Linked DNA regions of Homo sapiens: regions 2, 3, 4 and 5 are each reported to be linked to region 1. Evidence: microRNA targets listed by miRTarBase, many of them from high-throughput screens and not tested one by one. Region 1 holds a microRNA gene; each other region holds the end of a gene's coding sequence.

Evidence for each region. The annotated mature microRNA hsa-miR-6788-5p reads CUGGGAGAAGAGUGGUGAAGA and lies in region 1 at 2,163-2,183, shown strand. An mRNA with a match to its seed (bases 2 to 7 or 8) in the 3' UTR can be bound and repressed. Matches are read on the target gene's strand: a 7mer-m8 pairs with bases 2 to 8, a 7mer-A1 pairs with bases 2 to 7 and ends in A, and an 8mer does both.
Region 2: the mRNA of SLC60A1 is a reported target of hsa-miR-6788-5p. Seed matches in the 3' UTR shown: 7mer-A1 at 1,504-1,510 and 7mer-A1 at 1,638-1,644.
Region 3: the mRNA of ABI2 is a reported target of hsa-miR-6788-5p. Seed matches in the 3' UTR shown: 8mer at 3,059-3,066.
Region 4: the mRNA of NHLRC2 is a reported target of hsa-miR-6788-5p. Seed matches in the 3' UTR shown: 7mer-m8 at 3,684-3,690, 7mer-A1 at 1,939-1,945 and 8mer at 1,802-1,809.
Region 5: the mRNA of TIAL1 is a reported target of hsa-miR-6788-5p. The part of its 3' UTR that is shown has no 7-base or 8-base seed match.

Annotation. Positions count from the first base shown.
Region 1 is chr18:10,757,807-10,761,806 of GRCh38, reverse strand. It overlaps MIR6788 (microRNA 6788), which reads left to right and starts at 2,158; the gene lies at 2,158-2,223. PIEZO2 (piezo type mechanosensitive ion channel component 2) reads left to right here. Exons shown (of 56, transcript NM_001378183.1): 24 at 696-896; 25 at 1,898-2,102; 26 at 2,224-2,325; 27 at 3,673-3,838.
Region 2 is chr1:205,600,201-205,604,273 of GRCh38, forward strand. It overlaps SLC60A1 (solute carrier family 60 member 1), which reads left to right. Exons shown (of 10, transcript NM_181644.5): 10 at 206-2,718. The coding sequence ends at 261. Among named protein-coding and RNA genes, the nearest start is that of ELK4, 30 kb to the right of the region's middle. RefSeq lists an enhancer at 1-964.
Region 3 is chr2:203,427,000-203,431,072 of GRCh38, reverse strand. It overlaps ABI2 (abl interactor 2), which reads right to left. Exons shown (of 12, transcript NM_001375670.1): 12 at 1-3,896. The coding sequence ends at 3,721. Among named protein-coding and RNA genes, the nearest start is that of ABI2, 100 kb to the right of the region's middle.
Region 4 is chr10:113,908,193-113,912,265 of GRCh38, reverse strand. It overlaps NHLRC2 (NHL repeat containing 2), which reads right to left. Exons shown (of 11, transcript NM_198514.4): 11 at 1-3,986. The coding sequence ends at 3,730. Among named protein-coding and RNA genes, the nearest start is that of NHLRC2, 56 kb to the right of the region's middle.
Region 5 is chr10:119,572,145-119,576,217 of GRCh38, reverse strand. TIAL1 (TIA1 cytotoxic granule associated RNA binding protein like 1) reads left to right here. Exons shown (of 12, transcript NM_003252.4): 12 at 427-2,753. The coding sequence ends at 553. Among named protein-coding and RNA genes, the nearest start is that of TIAL1, 23 kb to the left of the region's middle.

The DNA.
Region 1 (4,000 bases):
GATTTTTAAATGTATTAAGCAGCCCATTTTCTTTGTGGACCTTCTAGATTTTTCATCACATGGTAGATATCTTTTGTACCAGTACCCACCATAAATAGCTGTTATGAGGATAAAGCAAATTGGTATTTGAAAAGGGTGATCGAATTGTGTCTGGAACCTATGGTTCCATAAATGTTAACTATTTTCATTATCTTGAATAATAGTTATATCATCACTATTATTATTTTACTGTTGTCAGCATGCTTTTCAATCTATTGCTGTCTGTAGCCAGATTTCAGGAGTGTTCAAAAGCTTCCCCCTAAGCAGCTTCCCGTTCATTTAGCTCAGTGCGTCCCAGGATGTCTCTGTACTGTTTTTGCACTTCTGGCTGCAAACAAGGCTGAACTGCCCTCCTTGGATAACTGGAAATTGCTTCCTTGGTGTGAGATGTGTAGTTGTGAGAAGTAGGAATGAGCAGCAGCATCTTATGTTTGGAGATTCTAGATCCTATGACTTTGGAAGTTAGCCTGATTTTCTAATATAGATAATGCCACAATAAATAAGACAGAGAAAACGAATATTGAGCTCAAAACTGCTTAAGAGAGGTGAGCTTTTATAAAACATTGTCCTTGTAGCTGTGCAGAATGTGGGGATTGCTTGAAATTACCAAATCATAAAGCCTCTGGCTGACACATTTGTGTTTCCTTGCTTTGTAGAATAACCTCCTGATGCTGGCTATCCTGGCCTTTGAAGTCACCATTTACCGCCATCAGGAATACTATCGAGGTCGAAATAACCTGACGGCCCCTGTGTCTAGAACTATCTTTCATGACATTACAAGACTACATCTAGATGATGGACTTATTAATTGTGCCAAATATTTCATTAATTACTTCTTTTACAAGTTTGGTCTGGAGGTGAGTTTCCTTGCTGATATGTTTTATTTCTCTTTTCCATGAAAATTCAAAGAACTGCTTCTGGCCAATTGGCCACTGGAACTTTGTGATACATCTGCAGGCATGATAGCTGTCCCCTTGAGAAGAACAGAAAGTATTTGTACTGATGGTTAACTGGCTTGACTGAAAGTTTTCCAAGTTTGGGTGCTGAACACCCCCCTCCACAGCAGTGCCTTGGCCTCTCTGGATCTCCAGAGCCATCTAAATGCATGGCCATCAGTTGCCGTGTTAACAGGTTTCTTATTAAGAATAAAGTATTAATCTTCTGCCTGGGCACGGTGGCTCACGCCTGTAATCCCAGCACTTTGGGAGGCCAAGGCAGGCAGATCTTCTGAGGTCAGGACTTTGAGACCAGCCTGGGCAACATGGTGGAACCCCATCTCTTCTAAAAATACAAAAATTATCCAGGCGTGGTGGTGCACGCCTGTAATCACAGCTACTTGAGAGGCTGAGGCAGGAGAATTGCCTGAACCCAGGAGGCAGAGGTTGCAGTGAGCCAAGTTTGCACCACTGCACTCTAGCCTGGGTGACAGGGCAAGATTCCATCTCAAAATAAATAAATAATAAAGTATTAATCTTCTTTCTTTTTGTGCATTCTGAAACCATAAGCTGCAGCCAAAATGAACTGTTTTAACCTAAAACGATTGTGATAGTGCCTGTGCCTTCATAGAATGAAGTAGGAATGGTGATGTTTCATGAGGAGATCAAAATGGCTGTTCTCTTTATTGTCTGAAGTGGTTATGATAACAGCTACTTAGTCAGTTTTTCCCTGGGAGTAATCTGTACAGTATTTCTGTCTTCACGCTGAGACACTCAAAAGAGCAAGCATTTGTGAATCTGTGCAGACAGACTTGCCCTGAGGGACATGGGTCTCCGCCATCTACACAGACCTGACACCTATCACCAGTCCCCTTTCCCATATGCCTGATTTTTTTTTTTTGCCTCTTTTCATCTTTACACAGACCTGTTTCCTAATGTCAGTTAACGTCATTGGCCAGCGAATGGATTTCTATGCCATGATCCACGCCTGCTGGCTGATCGCTGTCTTATATAGACGCAGAAGGAAAGCCATCGCAGAGATCTGGCCCAAGTACTGCTGCTTCCTGGCATGCATCATCACCTTCCAGTATTTCATCTGCATTGGCATCCCACCTGCTCCTTGCCGAGGTGAGCCTGCCCTTCCCTTGAGCCGTCTACTTTTAGAAGAAGCCATTACTGAGCGGACGGCTGGGAGAAGAGTGGTGAAGAAGAGTATTGATTGTGCTGTTCGCCACTTCCCTCCCTGCAGATTACCCGTGGAGATTCAAGGGTGCCAGCTTCAATGACAACATCATAAAGTGGCTGTACTTCCCAGATTTCATTGTGCGGCCCAACCCTGTGTTTCTCGTCTGTAAGTGTTTCCACTGCAGGGCCACAGAGTGCTGGTATCCGGGTTTACTGTTAATCATTGTTCACGTGCTATGCATTAGTGCCTTTTGTCTTCCACTAGACTTCGTAATCATGTAAAGGCTTGTCTTATGCATTAATATCACAAGTCATTAATGGCTTCTACTCACCCTATTACATTTGCAAAATTAATAAATCAGTGTTGGAAATGCCATATTCACTTGCATAATTTCACTTCCCCCAACACACACACACAAACACACACACACACACACACACACATTTACACAGCCACCTTTCAAAAGACAGACCAGAGAGGAAGGCTTTTGTGTTTTCTGACTTGGTGGTTTCTGGCTCCCAGTGCAGATAAATAAACCCTGAACATGGGACAGTGGATGCTGGGAGATGCTTCCCAGATTTTAGTTGCTCTAGAATTGGGCTGCAGCCCCAAGGCCTTCCCATGGCAGCTGGTGATCCAAAGGTCAGAGCAGCTCCTCCAAGACCAGAGTGCTGGGTTTTACAGAAAATGCAAATGACTGCCCTGCCTAAACAAGTTTAGGTTTAATTTTAAAAGCAAGGAAGCAGCTTGTGTTCAGGCTTCCAGGCAGGCTTGGCCTCAGCCCTTTGTGGGCAGTTGCTGGGAGGACAGCTCTCTCAGGCTGCGCTGTGCTGTCCAGCACAGTCCACCACCTCCACCTGCTCTCACCACACTTGCAGTGTGGCTTCTGCTTTGGGGACAGTCTTTGGTTACAAATGCAAAGGAGGATGGAAAGGATAAAGAAAAATGAATGTCTGCATCCACCACACATAAAAAGATAAAGATGGGGAAATTGCTCAAGTGGCCTCCTTAAAACTGGTGGGAGGTAAAAAAAATTAGCCAGGCATGGTGGCGGGCACTTGTATTCCCAGCTACTTGGGAGGCTGAGGCAGGAGAATGGTGTGAACCCAGGAGGTGGGGCTTGCAGTGAGCCAAGATCGCACCACTGCACTCCAGCCTGGGCGACAGAGCGAGACTCTGTCTCACACACACACACACAAAAATGTTACCCTCTAAGAGACTCATGAAGACTAGTAAGTAGCACCTAATATTTCTCTCACCGATGTGCAAACAAAATTCAGAGACTCCCCACGTAAGCTCCTGGAGTGTCTGTGGTCACTCTATGCCCTGCAAGGTGGAGAAGGTGTGACTTGGCCCCGACATTGGACTCCAGGATGAATTTTACTATGAACTTTGGGAACACAACTCACTTAGGAGCTGGGGAATGGCTGTTGCTGTGTGATGACTGTGTGTTGCATTATGTAAATCAGAAGAGGATGAGGCGGCTTAATGATCTCACCTCTGTCTTGTTAGATGACTTCATGCTGCTTCTGTGTGCCTCCTTACAACGGCAGATTTTTGAGGATGAGAACAAGGCTGCAGTGCGAATCATGGCAGGTGACAATGTCGAGATCTGCATGAACCTTGATGCGGCCTCCTTCAGCCAACATAACCCTGTGCCAGATTTTATTCACTGCAGGTAACAAGAGCTTCACATTTGCTAAAAGCCACTTTGATGTGTGCATTTCCATTACATTGCTCCTCTATACTTTCTCTGCTATACTTGGGAAACAGATCTGCTGAATTGTATACACTGAAGTTAATAAATGCTGGACAATGTGGTTCAGCAGCCTGGAGGCTG
Region 2 (4,073 bases), not on the chromosome of region 1:
TTCCCCAAGCCCTAGACAGCAGTCTCAGGAAACTGCCTCCACCAACTGTTCGCCAGAACTAGGGGGTCTGACTTTTCACTTTGCTCCCTCTAGAGCCACAGAATGGCAGAGAAACAAACAGCCTGGGTAAGCTCTCAGAATGAATCATCACTGCAACTCATCAGAGCTGCTGAAACATGCTACCTGTTTTGTTTTTCTTTTGTAGTTCCTACCCAAGACAGATCAATTGGAATGGAAAACTCTGAGTGCTACCAGAGGTAAAACTGGGTGAAGAAGGCAAGAGAAGACTTTCAGCCTCTTGATCACCAGCACGACCATACTGTTTCAGAAAGCTGGGTGGTGGTGGAGGCGCTCTCTCAATGGCTATTCAAGTCTTCTCCACTAAAACTTGGTTGGGTAGAGGAAATTAAATTGAGTCCTGGTACCTGGTCAAAATCATTAGAAGTTTACCTGGCTTCTCAAGTTATCTTCTTCCCTGGTTCAGACTGTTGGTAAGAGCTGTCCAGATACCCAGATGGGAAGGAAGGAGACAGCCGCGCGCTTCACTCCATTTGTCACCTCATGCATGGACCATACTCTGGGTTTGAGATCATTCTTCATTGAAGTTTGTAAAAATAGGTTGAAATTGTAAAGCTCCATGATCATTGCTATATGTAGATATATTTCAATTTAAGCAAAACAAGCTGCAAGTTATTCCCTGGCATGCTCAAAGGATTTTCGTGCTTTTCACTTAATAGTCCAAAGTCTCTTAAATTCCTGCTGCAGACATCAATAGCTTATCTATATTCTCAAACACCAAAAGGAAAAGTTGAATCTTGCTCTCTTTGGTATACTAATGTAGTGGTATGCTAAGCTGGCTCATACCAACTTAGAAAAGCTGATTGTAAAATTTTCATTTTGACAGCTGGTTATTAAATGCAGCCATTATTAAAAATCAAATCATACAAACTTATAATTAAATCAATTACATTTAAAACAAAGGTAATAAATATTCAAAGCATATCACTTCCTAATTTGATCTTGATGCTCTTGAGGTAATTTACGTCCATGGTACCTGTGTGGTGGAATTACTATATATGATGGTGTGCTACTGTGCACCTTGTCTCAACTCCACTCTTCGTGATAGCATGTTGGTAGCTTGAAATCAGCCTGGTGGGAGTATTACCATGGACACTGGCAAAAGCTACAGATCCCGGAGAGCCAGTGGTTAAACATTTACCAGCATACCACTGCTAGTAATCAAGGCTAACTGGTCCAGAAATCGCCCAGGAGAATGAAATGGATGTTCCATTTTTTTCTACTGACATTGACTAGCATATAAAAGGTATAGAAACAGCACTAAGACTTTCTGAAAATACCTAATGAAAATTTTACATCTTTTTTTGTTTTTGTTTTTGTTTTTGAGACAGAGTCTCACTCTGTTGCCAGGCTGGAATGCAGTGGCGTCATCTCGGCTCACTGCAACCTCCGCCTCCCAGTTTCAAGCGATTCTCCTGCCTCAGCCTCCCAAGTAGCTGTGACTACAGGCGCATGCCATCACGCACAGCTAATTTTTTGTATTTTTAGTAGAGACGGGATTTCACCGTGTTAGCCAGGATGGTCTTGATCTCCTGACCTCATGATCTGCCCGTCTCGGCCTCCCAAAGTGCTGGGATTACAGGCGTGAGCCACTGCACCCAGCCAAAAATTTTACATCTTTTATAGAGGGAAAAAAACTCTTTATACCATGGCAAGGCCTTTTCTTTCACAAAAAGCTGGGCCTACTGAACAATTCAAGCTGTGCAGTAGTAGACTGAAAGCAGGATTTGTTGAGGAGTTACAGCTCCTGTCCAGAGCAAATCCTGTAGTGATACAAGGAGAATGTAAACTTGCCAGCTTAGACAGGGATCAGTCCTGAGACTGCTGGCAGTAGCAAATGGCTATTAGAGTAACTGTATAATGGTTTTGCCTGCACTTTCTCTATGTATATACAAATGTACATGTATAAATATAAAAATTAAGTGATCATGGTTCTTGGTAACCTGTCCCAAGTGCTGTGATTCACACGCCTGACACTAAAAGGTTCTTCCTGGTCCAGTCAGCCAGCTGTGACCACCAGCAGCACAGCTGAGTGCTGAGAATCTGGCTGGAAAGAGAAACGTGGCTCAAGTGCTGGCTCACCTTCTAGCTGTGTGGCCCTGGGCAGGTTACTGAGGCTCTTCCAACCTCACTTTTCACATGTAAAATGGCATTTCTAAAAGTACCTACCCTACCTCAAAGGAATTCTGAAAAAAGTAAGTGAATTTGTATAAAGCAAAGCACTCACAATATGCCTGACACACAAACTGCTTAATAAATGTTAGTAATTTTTAAAACCTCCTCATAAGCGGCTTAGAAATTATTCATGTTTGGTACATATTTATTGCAAGTCAAGCAGATCCAACTTTTTTGAAAGCTGGTGGTCTAGGAGTATAGTTTTAATTATATTTGTAAATACTCAAAAGTATTAGATGCCAGTCTAATTTAAATGCAGTCTGACTGTAGCGAGTAACTGACCTGGGCAATGAAAAAGCAGTTGTATTTTTCTTGTGGTTTTTCAAGAAAATATCCTTTTTATACAGATTTAGAAAGAAGAATCAATGGCTATATCGAAGTTGATTGTGACTAATTTGTTAATACAGAAAACAACATTAACACAAATCTAAGAGTACCTTTCCTAAAATAAAATATTTAAACTTATTAAGTGTGTTATCCATTATGAAGAACAATTGATCCTCTTGCATACACTCAGAAACAAATGGTCTGATGTTCCCCAGAGGCAGGTCTCTCTCATACTAATAAGTTAATGTGGCTTATATTTTAGAAGAAAGAAAACTGTCTCACAAGGGAAACTCTGAATTTTTTTAAAAAAAGATAAATAAATAAATAAATAAATAACCTCTCATAGCAGGGCTAAGTGCCACTATTCCCTATTACATAAAATCAGAATAAGGAATAAGGAAAAGGCAGGTCGATTCTTACACCACACGCTTCTCAGTTACACAAGTAGGACTTTCTTCCTCATCTTCCTTTCAGGAATTTGGACATTTCAGAATCCTGTGGAATCACCCTGTTCCCAGATTTTCCTCTGCTACTTGTATATGGAAATCTAACCCATCAGGCACATCGGATTCACTAAAAGAAGACACAGTGACATAGAGTTCTTTTAGAGTGAATTTCGTTTATTCAGTCAAAAAGGATTTGTTAAGCACCTGCTATGTTCAAGGCACTAATCTAGGTACAGACATACAGTGGTGACTGAGACAGAAGTCCCTGCCTCACAAGGATTATACCGCAGGTGAAGACATACAGACAGCAAACAAATACTACACGTAACATGCCACAGGGTGAGGGGTAATGTAGCACCATAGAGAAACATACATACAGGGAATATGGAATAGGATATGGGAATGCCACAGGGTGAGGGGTAATGTAGCACCATAAAGAAACATACAGGGAGTATGGAATGGGAATAGGGAATGTCAAGAGATGCTCTAGGGCCAGGCACAGTGGCTCACACCTGTAATCCCAACACTTTGGGAGGCTGAGGCAGGCGGATCACCTGAGATCAGGAGTTCAAGACCAGCCTGGCCAACATGGCAAAATCCTGTCTCTACTAAAAATACAAAATTTAGCTGGGCCTGGTGGTGCACACCTGTAATCTGTAATCCCAGCTACTGGGGAGGCTGAGGTGGGAGAATTGCTTGAACCTGGGAGGTGGAGGTTACAGTAAGCTGAGATTGTGCCACTGCACTCCAGCCTGGGTGACAGGGTGAGGCTCTGTCTCAAAAAAAAAAAAAAAAAAAAAAAAGATGCTCTGGAAGGCGTTTCTAAGGAGGTCCTATTTGTGTAGAAAACTAAATGATACGTGGGACCAAGCTATCCAAGTACGTGAAAACATCCCATCAGGCAGGGGGCACAGCAAGTACAAGAGCCTTAGGCTGGAATATGCTTATGGTATTGGAGGAACAGCAAGTAGGCTGGTGTGGCTCAACTGCAGTGAGGAAGAGTCAAACGGAACAAGTGGGAGTGGTTGCTAGAGGCCAGATCATACA
Region 3 (4,073 bases), not on the chromosome of region 1:
CTTGTCAGTCACCTGTGAATTCCTCCATCAAACCTTTTTCAAAGGCAAAGGTGACCTTCAGGACATGTCATGCTGTCTCCACAAAGGAGAAAAGAAAAGGTAGTAAAAGATAAAAACAGTTCTTAATGCAGAAAGGTCACCTACTAAAAGAAAATGAACATAAAAAGATAAAAGCAAACTACCATCATTTTGATGCCTCCCAAAGAGAAAAATCTTTAGTTATCTTCAACATAAACTGCCAAGGAGCACAGGTACGGTCCAGACATCACGGTAAATATGCATAAAATATTGTCTAGCTGGATAATAAACACCAGCAGTAGGAAAAAGGAGGGGATGAAAATGTCTCACACCCAGTAACTTTTAGGAACATAGCAAAATTAGCAGGCCACTGTCAACTCTAAAATGGGAACAGCAGGCGCCTCTGAGGGAGATAGGAAGTAGCTAAATGATGGAAAATATTAAACAAGATAGCTTAGAAGATTCATATTTATTCCAAATGGGAGGCTGAATCTCTCAGATGTCGATTTTGACACATTGGCACTATTTTTGTTTCTGATTTATTGCCTTGGCCGTAAGTTCAAAGGCAACAATAAAGTGTACTTTCATTAATACCACCATGGACTTTCGAGTATTAATATGACAAGAAAAGACAACTATTCATTTTTTTTAAGGGGACTGGACACACAAACTTCAGGAGGGAAGAATCCCCTCTCCCATTAGAATCCCTCTATCTTGATAAAATGGTTGCTTTATTGGTCAGATTTTGGACTTGGATCGTCTGTTATAATATTAATAGTACACAGCATGTAAGATTTTCTGCATTCATTTGAAATTCCTAATACCAACCATCTTTTAATTTATAAAAAAAGAGGGAAACTTACAATAAAACAAAAAATACTACCCTCACAGATGATTAATAGCATGCAATCTATGAAATATTACATACATTAAAAGTCTCCAATTACTGTGTGCCTGACCCATCACACAGTATCCTTCCAAGACAATCTATAGAATTCAAAACTGTACAAAAATTATAAAATATGCAGAAAACCCAAAAGGTACTGTTTGTAAAACAAAGATCACACACACATTAGTACTAAATAGGGAAAAAAAATCAGCAGACCCATGGACTACCCCTGCTCCCAACCACAGGTCTTCAGTATAAAGGACTTCACCAGTGTCTTCTGCACTGCCCCCATCCCGTAGGGGTCCAAAAGACCAGCTGCATTCCTGCTGACCGCCACTAACTCTGTTTTCTGCATAGTTGTCTTCCCTGCTTCTGTAGTGGTGAGCTGTGGGAACTTTTTTTTTTTTTTTTTGATGGAGTCTCGCTCTGTCACCAGGCTGGAGTGCAGTGGCACAATCTCGGCTCACTGCAACCTCTGCCTCCCAGGTTCCAGTGATTCTCCTGCCTCAGCCTCCCAAGTAGCTGGGACTACAGGTGTGCGCCACCACGCCCAGCTAATTTTTGTGTTTTTAGTAGAGATGGGGTTTCACCATGTTGGCCAGGATGGTCTCAATTTATTGACCTCATGATCCACCCACCTCGGCCTCCGAAAGTGCTGGGATTACAGGCATAAGCCACCACACCCAGCCTGTGGGAACTATTTATTGGATTTCAAAACACCCTCTGCCTCATTAATCCACTAAGCTTTCTCAGCAAAAAGCTGTTTAAATAAATAATGGGAACATCTAATTTAAAACAGTTTTTCTAATTATAGACCAGTACACGAAGAAGAGCTTAACTTATCCAAGTATAGTCTAGTTTGGGTCCATAATGGAGCTGAAGGCTCAGAGGACATTCAGGGCCATTACACTGCAGGAAAACAAGGAATAAGGGATGTAGAAATGACCTAAGAAAAGCACGAAGTGGAATGTATACTGGAGGCAAGTTAATGAAAGCTAATAAATACAAAGTGCTGGGAAAAATCTAAAAGCAAAATAGCTATTGTAACTTGCAATGCATTAAAAACAACTTTAAAACCAAAAAGTCTTGATAAGGAAACTCTATAGTGGGGTCTCAGTTAAATGCTGATGATTTTTAATGCTCAGATAACATTAAGTGGAATATTAACTTCTGCATCCGACACCATCTGAATTTTCTCACACACTACTACACTTGTTCACTTTTCAATCAAGTTCCACTTTCTGAACTTGTTCAAAACCTCATTTGAAATATATCCAGCTACTGCTTTTCCCCTTTCACCTAGCACAGGGCAGTTACCTGGCAAAGCTCTATTCTGGCCAAGTCACTGGGACTGAGTAGAACCCACGTTAGCAGCTCTGGACCTGAACAGGAGCTGGCCCAACATCACAGTGACCACCCACAAAGAGACAAGCCCTCCTGGATTTTTTTCAGCATTTCTTATACTGACTACAGTAGTGATGATTAAAGTTATCTGCCCTACAGACTCCACTGAATTTGAAGCTGTATTTATTGTACAGATGGGGGAAATGTGTTTTATTGTGTCAGTTATATTAATTTTTATCAATGTGATTAGATACATATTTTGGCCTATTAATCTTATTCATTATATTCTTAGTCTGAGATGGGTTTTAATTCTGACTAACAGCAGCTACTTAAGAGTCCAATCATACAAAATCAGGAGAGTATTACCCTTTCTACAGCTAAGCGAGTCAGTAATACAGCAGCAACTAATACTGGCCATTAATAACGTCCAGAGAGCACATTAGCAAACCTTGTACTCCCAGTGACTGTCAGGAGACTTGAAAATAACTACTATTCTCTTCCAAAGTAGAATAGCGTTTTTCTAGATAGTGAAGGAAATGATAGTCATAGTTGGTCTGAACTCCAAGATCCTACTCCTCAAAACAGCACCGAAGCAGGGGTTCGGGATGCCTGCTAAGAGCATTTCCACAGTTCAAGTCTCTTCAGAACCTTAGGGACCTTCGTGTCTAGCTTCACACACCCACCTCCACATATGAACCAGCCTACCACACTTCACATCTGGGTACACTGGCCATTAGCAACAATGCAGTCTCATGCAGCAGCACATTAAAATCAAACGGGTGGCAATCGTTCACCACCCTCAGAGTGTTGGGAGACTTTCACATTTCATCATCCTTATAATCCACAAACAGAAACATGAAGGGATGCAAGTGAGTTCAGCATTCACTCGTTTGGTGCACTCAAGTGCTGAGAGAATGCAGAATTTACAGTGTCACAGAGGAAAAAAGCCATCTGAAATAATTGTAAAAATGGTTAAGTGTGGTATTTAAATGTTGGTTCCCTCCTCTTCATACAAGTGGAAGAAAAGAAGGGGCTAGGGTACCCACTGGGCCATGAGGTTAACCCCTTAGCACAGGCAATGAAGAACATCCAATGCCACAGATTCTGCAGGAGGAGAAATCCCAAGGGTATACAGTATTCCTGAGAAAGATCCCAGATTTTTCTGAATCAGTCTTAATCTGATTTTGTTTTGGCTACACAGTTATGCTGTTATACCTTTGACATACATAAAAATGGTCATTTTATTTCAATCCAGACAGCTCAGCATTGTACAAATGATGGCAGAAAGATCCATTTGTTCAGACTCAGCTTGCTTTGTTTTTAATACTGGGGAATAAACCAAAAAAAAAAGTGTAATTTTTATCATTTGTATCCTTCATTCTACTTTACTGGAGTGGAATCCCCAGGGCCTTCAGATAATCTGGGAAGACCTGACTATTCCTGTGAGGCAAGCACAGCCCTGCTGAGCTTTACTCAGAATAATGCATGATAGACTCAACGTAATTCCCAGGAAAAAGCCCAGTCACTCCATTCATAACTCCCTCATACCAACCATCGTCATTCTTCTTGATGACATAAATAATGGCTCCTTCCTGAAAGGACAGCTCATCTTCCTTGTCTTTTGTATAGTCATAAATTGCCACAACTAGGAGGGAAGAAAACAAAACAGGATGTGAAAGACAGTAATATTCCTAGAAAGACAGAACCAAGCCAGTGAATAGCTATCTGTTCCCAAATCCTGTAGCACTCAAACATGGTGACTTTCTAAACACCAACCAAAACTTACATGTTTTTTTTTCTAAGTAATACCCAGTCATATACA
Region 4 (4,073 bases), not on the chromosome of region 1:
GCTAATAATTACCAGTTTCATTAATTACTAAGTGCTGTACACACAATATTTCATTGAATATGAGGCAGGTATATCAGCCCCATTTTAAAGGATTAGAATCCAAGTTACTGCAAAATCCAAGCTCTTAACCACTACACTACGTTACACAATAAAAATAACAGAACAAAAAAGCCATAACCATTGCTATCTTCACGAAATCACGTACTTAAGAGAACCGGTAGATCAAAGGACTCCAAACAATGTTCTGAGCTCTGGTAATAAAAATGACTTTTAAAAAGTTATTATATAAGTGCTTACGATTCAGTTAACTTTAACTCTTTAAACTTTATGGGTTTCCCCCCACCGTGATTTTAAAAATAACAGATTGCTCACTGAAAAGAAAAAAAAAACAGCAAAGTAGAATTAAAATAAAAACATCCATAATTCCTTCATTCACAAGAACTATTGACATTTTCCCTCTGCATATATTCTTATGTAACTGTTAACTATAGAATTTAAGTAGATTTTGATGATTGTGGTTAAACGTGATGCCAAATCTAACTATCGTATTTTTAACTGGTAGACATAAATTAATAGTAAACTTTGTGCAGGCAGAAAACTATTACATTATAGAGATATGTATTTTTAATAACTTCCTAAATTTTCCAACTACAGAAAAACAAGCAAAGAGTAACTTATCTCAGTTATACAAGCTCAAAAGTATATTGGCCATAAAAGAATCATGAATAATTCTTAATCTTTGTGTATACACACACCTATATAAATATACACATAGTAAATTTTTTTTTCTGGCTGTTAGGATTTATAACTTTCTGAAGGTTTGATAATATTATAACTAAATATTATTAGAACAGTTAAGAAAAAAATTATTTTTCATAGTCATTGAATTTTGCTAAAGTTACACTTATGGGTGATTAAACTACAAAGTTTTCTCTTGTTAAATATTTGCTTAAGACAGAATGTTCAAGATAAGCTAAACTCTTTACAAGAATCATATCAAGAAATTCTACCATTTGTGAAATAATAAAGAGGAGAGGAAAAAAATAGCGACAAACCAGCAGAATAATTTAGGGCAAAGATTCCAGGTATTATATAAAATGTGTGTAATACCACATTACTGGCATTTCAAGTGAGGTGACTTACACTAAAATCTTGTTCTTTTTAAACTATCACTGGACATAATAATTTATCCAACAAGAAAAGCAAAAGATAAAAAATATGCATTAGTCCTTATAGAATATGGATCAACAAGTTTTAAAAATAAACTTTCTAGTGCTTCCTCTTATGTGAGAGGTTTATCCTCGTCATAAATTCTAGGAACCTATCTATATTGCTTAAGTGTGATTTTATTCAAAATCATATTAGTCTACTATAAATAATACTTTTAATGTAAAAAACAATGCAGACTGGCAGTGGGTAAGAATAAGAATGTTCAATAAAACTGTATTTTGAAAGTCAAGAAAAGTATAAGCTAAGGCTAACCTAAAACTGTCTAGACAAATGAAGGGGAATAGAGTCTAAAAAATGCCTTTGCATTTTCACTGTACATGAACATGTATAACAAACACTGTGTTTGTATATTATATTGAAAAATAAACTCAGATATTTCTAAATTAGTAAATTAAAATTGTATATACTTCATTTAGAGTGTGAAATTGTTTAAGTCCTTAAACAGAAAATGATTGGGCCAAAATATTCTCATCCTGTCCATCTAGAAATGAGAAACATAATAAGTCAAATGAGATTAAAAATTAACTAAGGCCAGTAGGGCAAGGTGGCTCACACCTGTAATCCCAGCACTTTGGGAGACAGAGGCAGGCGGATCACCTGAGGCCAGGAGTTTGGGACCAGCCTGACTGACATGGTGAAACCCTGTCTCTACTAAAAACACAAAAAAATTAGCTGGGCATGGTGGTGTACGCCTGTAATCCCAGCTACTTGGGAGGCTGAGGCAGGAAAATCTCTTGAACCCAGGAGGTAGAGGTTGCAGTGAGCCAAGATCGCGCCACTGCCCTCCCAGCCTGGGCTACAGAGCCAGACTACGTCTCAAAAATAAAATAAAATAACTAAGGCCTATTCTCATAAAAGAGAGTATGTTATACACCCTTTTATTACAGAACATTTCATTTTTTTGATTGCTTGTGGAGAGAAAAGGTTTATGAGGTAATTACATATAATTTTAAACAGGATTCCTTTTAATTTTATATCTATATTTCTCTTTAAAAGTAGCTTCAGTAGATGACTAATTAAATCAATGTCATGATTTATACATCCTTACTTCAGAGATTCAGCTAACCTTATGAATAAAACAAACTAATACTACATTTCAAACAAAATTAAAAATAGACAATGATGTTTAAAAAAGATTACACTTCAAATTTAGCACTGTTTTTACAGGGAAGGGAAGCATATTATGCCATATTGTCTATAAATATTTACTGAATAAATAAACATGGTTCACCTGATGTTTTTAAACCCTTGTAAGCTGATTAAATCACAAACATGTTGAATAGGTCTTAAGGAAAACAAGATTAGGCTTTTAAGTAGTTATAAATTATGACAATAGAAAAAAAACCTTTCCAATATCTTTTTTTAGGGATAAAAAACAACAAAAATTAAAAAATAGTATCATTAAATCACTGTTTCGGCCTTAATATTTTGAAGACTAATATATTAGGATATACTGTATCTATTAATAGCATGAAAGCACCTCACACTGAAAATTTCACTTTTAAGGCTTAAAAGTGATTTTTAAAAACATCACAATAAATGATCATAATTTAAATTCTGAATATGGGAACGAAAAAAACCTCAAAACCTAAACTCAACAAATCTGCATTTAATGCTTACAAGTGAAATGTACATTTCCAAAACAAGATATGTAACCATCAGATTTAGCTGTCACAATAAATTATTTATCACAGACACTAAGTAATGTGTCCTAAAGTCCCTTTTTCCTTGAAAGTCATAATATTTCTGGGGACTCATTCATTATCTGGTAATGTAGTCACTCAAAAACAGTTAAAGGAGTCAGTCCTTAGAGATTCTATGTCCAACTTTATCTGTACAAAGTTTTAAGGCATTCATAATGGTATGTTAAATAACAAATAATTTATAATAAAAATAGATCAAAACTCTCTTTTAAAAATATCTCAACTGAGAAAACCACAGAAGAGAATAAAGATCGTATTTACCACTGATGTACTCCTTAAGCTTCTACAGTGATGAAAAGACTTTTTTTTGGCTTACAACAGACTTTATGCCTTGAATACTTGGTGTTCTTATACAAATGTGGCCTGGAGCTTAAGTTCTGCCTAAAGTTACTGTGAAATTTACACATTCAAGTGTGCTGATTGCTATTAATAAAGGTAGAAAAAGTTAGTTAAAATATCTGGTATTATTATTATCAGTATTTATTGCAAATTATCTTATAGTATTCTCTACTGTAGTGTGAACTTCAGTCTTGTGCCAAATAGCAGCATAGATTACAATATCATGGTACCAATGATGATCAATGACTCAGCTAGTATCAGCCAAAGCAAAGGAATTTGTTTATAATAAAAGAAGTAAGTAAGGAGCATAGCTTTATTTTAATATCAGTTGTCTGAACTGAGCAATGGGCATCTTGGTATCCAGAGGCAGAACTGAAGTTTTCTTTCCTTAAATTACAGTGATAGTCAGGATGGGAGACAGTAGGTGGTGGCAATGGGTTGCTAGCTAGCTGGCTGGCTAAAATACATACCTGAGCTCTACTGGAGCTATGCAACCTTGCTGTGTATCCGTTATTTGTAAAGGCTGACTGAACAAAATTGCCTTCATCATACAAGCACTGCTGTCTGCACTACAGTAATAAAGAAACACACTGACAGATACAATGGCTTCAAGTGATAAGCAATCATCAGGAATTTGTAGTGAAATTGTTGGTTGACTGGAAATGTTCTCTATATCTCCAGCTGCTATCTGTCCTTGAAGTAGCCATTCATTGCCTAAAAATCAAAAATGAAATTATTAAGACTGTATAAGATAAGTAGAAAACTGGGAACATCTTATGAAGACTAGATAAACTCGATCGA
Region 5 (4,073 bases), not on the chromosome of region 1:
TTTTTTTTTTTTTTTCTTTTGTTGATAGAGTGGTTTCCTCCTTTGTAATTCCCCTGCCCAGGGCCAGCCCATAGCTTTATTTTCAGATTTCTTCCTTTGAGACTGTTTCCAACATGAACTTGTTTTTAAAATTTCTTATGTAATAGATGATGTGTTGAATCATTCACAATTTTTAAAAAATTAGTTTGCAGATACTCCTCAGACATCAGTGTGTTAAGTTGTGGTTATCTTAAAAATATCAAAGACTAATACTGGAATATGTATTCTACACATATATCATTTATTTCTTTGATCTTTCTATTTGTTGTAGGTGTGTTGATTTCTGGTTTTCTATTCTGTGATTAGGCTCTGCTTGATTTTTGTGTAAATACATATGTGATTTTTTTTTTCTTGTGTTTGCTGAAGATTTTTTCTTTTTCTTCCAAGTCAATCACCTTCTGCTGCTTGGATGGGTGGATTTGGTGCTCAGCCTCCCCAAGGACAAGCTCCTCCCCCTGTAATACCTCCTCCTAACCAAGCCGGATATGGTATGGCAAGTTACCAAACACAGTGAGCCGGGACTCTAAAAAAAAATTGTAATTCATGATAGGCTTCGATTTCCTGTGACACTCTGAAGACATGAAAGTAGACATCGGAAAATGAAAATATTTATTTTAAAAATTGAAATGTTTGGAACCTTTAGCACAGATTTGCTTTGGTGAAGGACACGTGTCTTCTAGTTCTGCCTTTTTAAGTTTTTGTTCATGATGGATATGAACATGATTTTTCTTTATGTACAAAAACTAAAATAAAGTCAATAAAGACAATTCTGACTACAAATTTTGATATAATAGGAAAAATGGCTAATACATTTTGATTCTTAGATACTATTCCATTTTTATCTTGCTGTTCAGTATTTTAACTCACTGTGTTTTTAAAAGAGCAAAAAAGGGAGGATCGTGAAAACCTGGGAATCACATATAAGTTCATCCTGAATCCTGATACTCCCCTCCCCTTCCCTGAGGTGGACCACATTTGAAGTCAGCAGAGAAAAAGTGTGATATTCAGAAGAAATGCGTGATTTTGGAGTCGCTTTGGAGGAAATATTTTCTTTCTCTATGCCTAAAGAAACTGAAGCCAGACTGAAGTTTTGCACCCTAAAAAAGGAACAGCATTGTTTGAGTTACTTGAGCAAATGTTGGTGGTCCACGTTAAGACATATTTTTAAAACTTCCAAAAGTGTCGATTATTAAAATTGTAGTATTTTACATTTCATTTTGGGGGGAAATCCAAGTATGGTGTTTGTATTGAAGTCAGACAGTCATACTTGTGCTTTTACATGAAGTTTAAATGATACATATTGTAAATATTCAATAACTACAGTGTTTAAAAAGCATGCTTCAACATAGAAGTAGCAGCAATGTAATTATTTGAAGTAACACTTAACACACTCCGCTGCATTGAATGCAGTGGATTGATCAGAATGTTAAGACTGACATTTCCAAGGTTGGCTACTATGTAAAATTAAAATTACACAAATTGTGCAGAAAAAGCCTTAATTTTAATTTCATACAATCTTTGATGCATTAGTATGTTCTAAAATGTCATTGGGAATTAGTTTTTTGTTTTTGTTTTTTTTTTTTTTTTTTTTTGCTTTACATTACTTGGTATGTAAATACCTTGATTAAAACCTTGTAAACCAATTTCAAGGTTACTATAAGTTGTATAGTACAAGTGTTTTTTAAAAATCTTGGGGTGTTTTTAAAAATTAAGATATATTTTGCCCAAGAATTTTTTTAACAAGATTGCTAAAAACATCTTATTTAGACACTTCAATGTACCAATTTATAATTGGATATTCAGTTTAAATAGTACACAGAGTTGTGGCTTTTATTTTCAATTAATTTTTTTCCTTGTGGGCAGTGTGCATGGTATAATAAGCCTGAGCAGAGGCTTAAGTTGTATGTGTGCAGAGTTTGTAAAGGAATCAATTGGAAGATGCAGAAGACCGAGGTTTGCTTTCAAGGTATTTTTCAGGCTGTGTGGGTAAAATTTGCCTCAAATTTCTATCAAACAGGAATGTAAAATAGATAAAATCCTATGTATTTGAATTGTCAGAGCTAGGGAGTGCAAATGTTTTGGCAATGTATTCAAAATGCTGGCCTGGGCACCAAAGAGAAAATAGCCTTTTACAGTTACATAGTAAGATGCGATTAGTACCCACAAATTACTGTTTTCTAAACATTTGAAGTTTTACGATTAGCTTTAAAATAATGATTTTATAAATTGGTGGTCACAATAATTTTGGTATTACTTTCCTCCTTTTCCCACTTAGCAATATAGCCAAATGTATTCAACATAAAAATTCATAGGGTCTGAAATTCATAGCTGGGCCAAATTTTTTATGGCACCTTAGTTTTACCATAATGGTCATCTATTACACTCTTCTGTTATAAAATATACCCTTATTTCTTTTGTTTATAGTATCTTTGAGGAATGTTTTTGGAAAAGTTAATTTATATTTTATAGGGAGAACACTCAATAAATTATGTTAACTGTGCCCCCGAGTTAAAAATTTTATGAGTATATGTGAAACTTGAACAACTGAAGACTTTTTTTAATTGATAAAAATGCTTAGTATGCCTGTTTTGGTCTGCCAGTAAATTAAGTAGCTTATTGAGATAACTAACAGCTAAATATAGCTGTAGTGTTTCCTGACTGTATATTCTATGATTTAATAAAATTATCCAGACTAGTTATATTGCCACAGTAAACATGTGACTGAAGTGTCCTTCATCTTAATCTGAAAGAGGGCAAAATTTCATGATCAGTTAATGGAAGTTATTTCATATTAAGTGGTTTTTTTTTTTTTTTTTTTTTAGATGGAGTCTTGCTCTGTCGCCAGGCTGGAGTACATGTAGTGATGAGAACTTGGCTCACCGCAACCTCTGCTTCCCAGATTCAAGCGATTCTCCTGCCTCAGCCTCCTGAGTAGCTGGGATTACAGTCACGTGCCACCATGCCCAGCTAATTTTTTTGTGTTTTTAGTAGAGATGGGGGTTTCACCATGTTGGCCAGGATGGTCTCGATCTCCTCACCTCGTGATCCGCCCGCCTCAGTCTCCCAAAGTGCTGGGACTACAAGCGTGAGCCACGGTGTCTGGCTTTTTTTTTTTTTTTTTTTTGAGACGGAGTCTTGCCCTGTCGCCAGGCTGGAGTGCAGTGGTGCAATCTCGGCTCACCGCAACCTCCGCCTCCTGGGTTCAAGCTATTCTCCTGCCTCAGCCTCCCGAGTAGCTGGACTACAGATGCATGCCACCATGTCTAGTAAATTTTTGTATTTTTAGTAGAGACAGGGTTTCACCATGTTGGCCAGGATGGTCTCAATCTCCTGACCTCGTGATCCACCCACCTCGGCCTCCCAAGGTGCTGGGATTACAGGCGTGAGCCACTGCACCTGGCCATTAAGTGGTTTTTAAAATACAAAGCTACTTATCCAAATGAAATGTACCATTTAAAAACTACAACTGGGCCGGGCGCAGTGGCTCAGCCTGACCAACATGATGAAACCCTGTCTCCACTAAAAATACAAAATTAAGCGTGGTGGCCCGTGCCTGTAGTCTCAACTACTCAGGAGGCTGAGGCAGGAGAATCTCTTGAACCCAGGAGGCGGAGGTTGCCCTGAGCCAAGATTGTGCTATTGCACTCCACCCTGGGAAATAGAGCAAGACTCCGTCTCAAAAAAAAAAAAAGTGCAACTGTTGCCGGGCATGGTGGTTCACACCTGTAATCCCAGCACTTTGGGAAGCTGAGGCGGGTAGTGGATCACCTAAGGTCAGGAGTTTGAGACCAGCCCAGCCAACATGGTGAAACCCCATCTCTACTAAAAATAACAAAAAAATTAGCTGGGCGTGCTGGTGGGCGCTGGTAGTCCCAGTGACTTGGGAGGCTGAGGCAGGAGAATTGAACCTGGGAGGTGGAGGTTGCAGTGAGCTGAAAATGCGCCACTGCACTCCAGCCTGGGCGACAGAGCGAGACTCCATCTCAAAAAATAAATGAATTAATTAAAAGTATGGCTGTTGAGCTAACAGATGA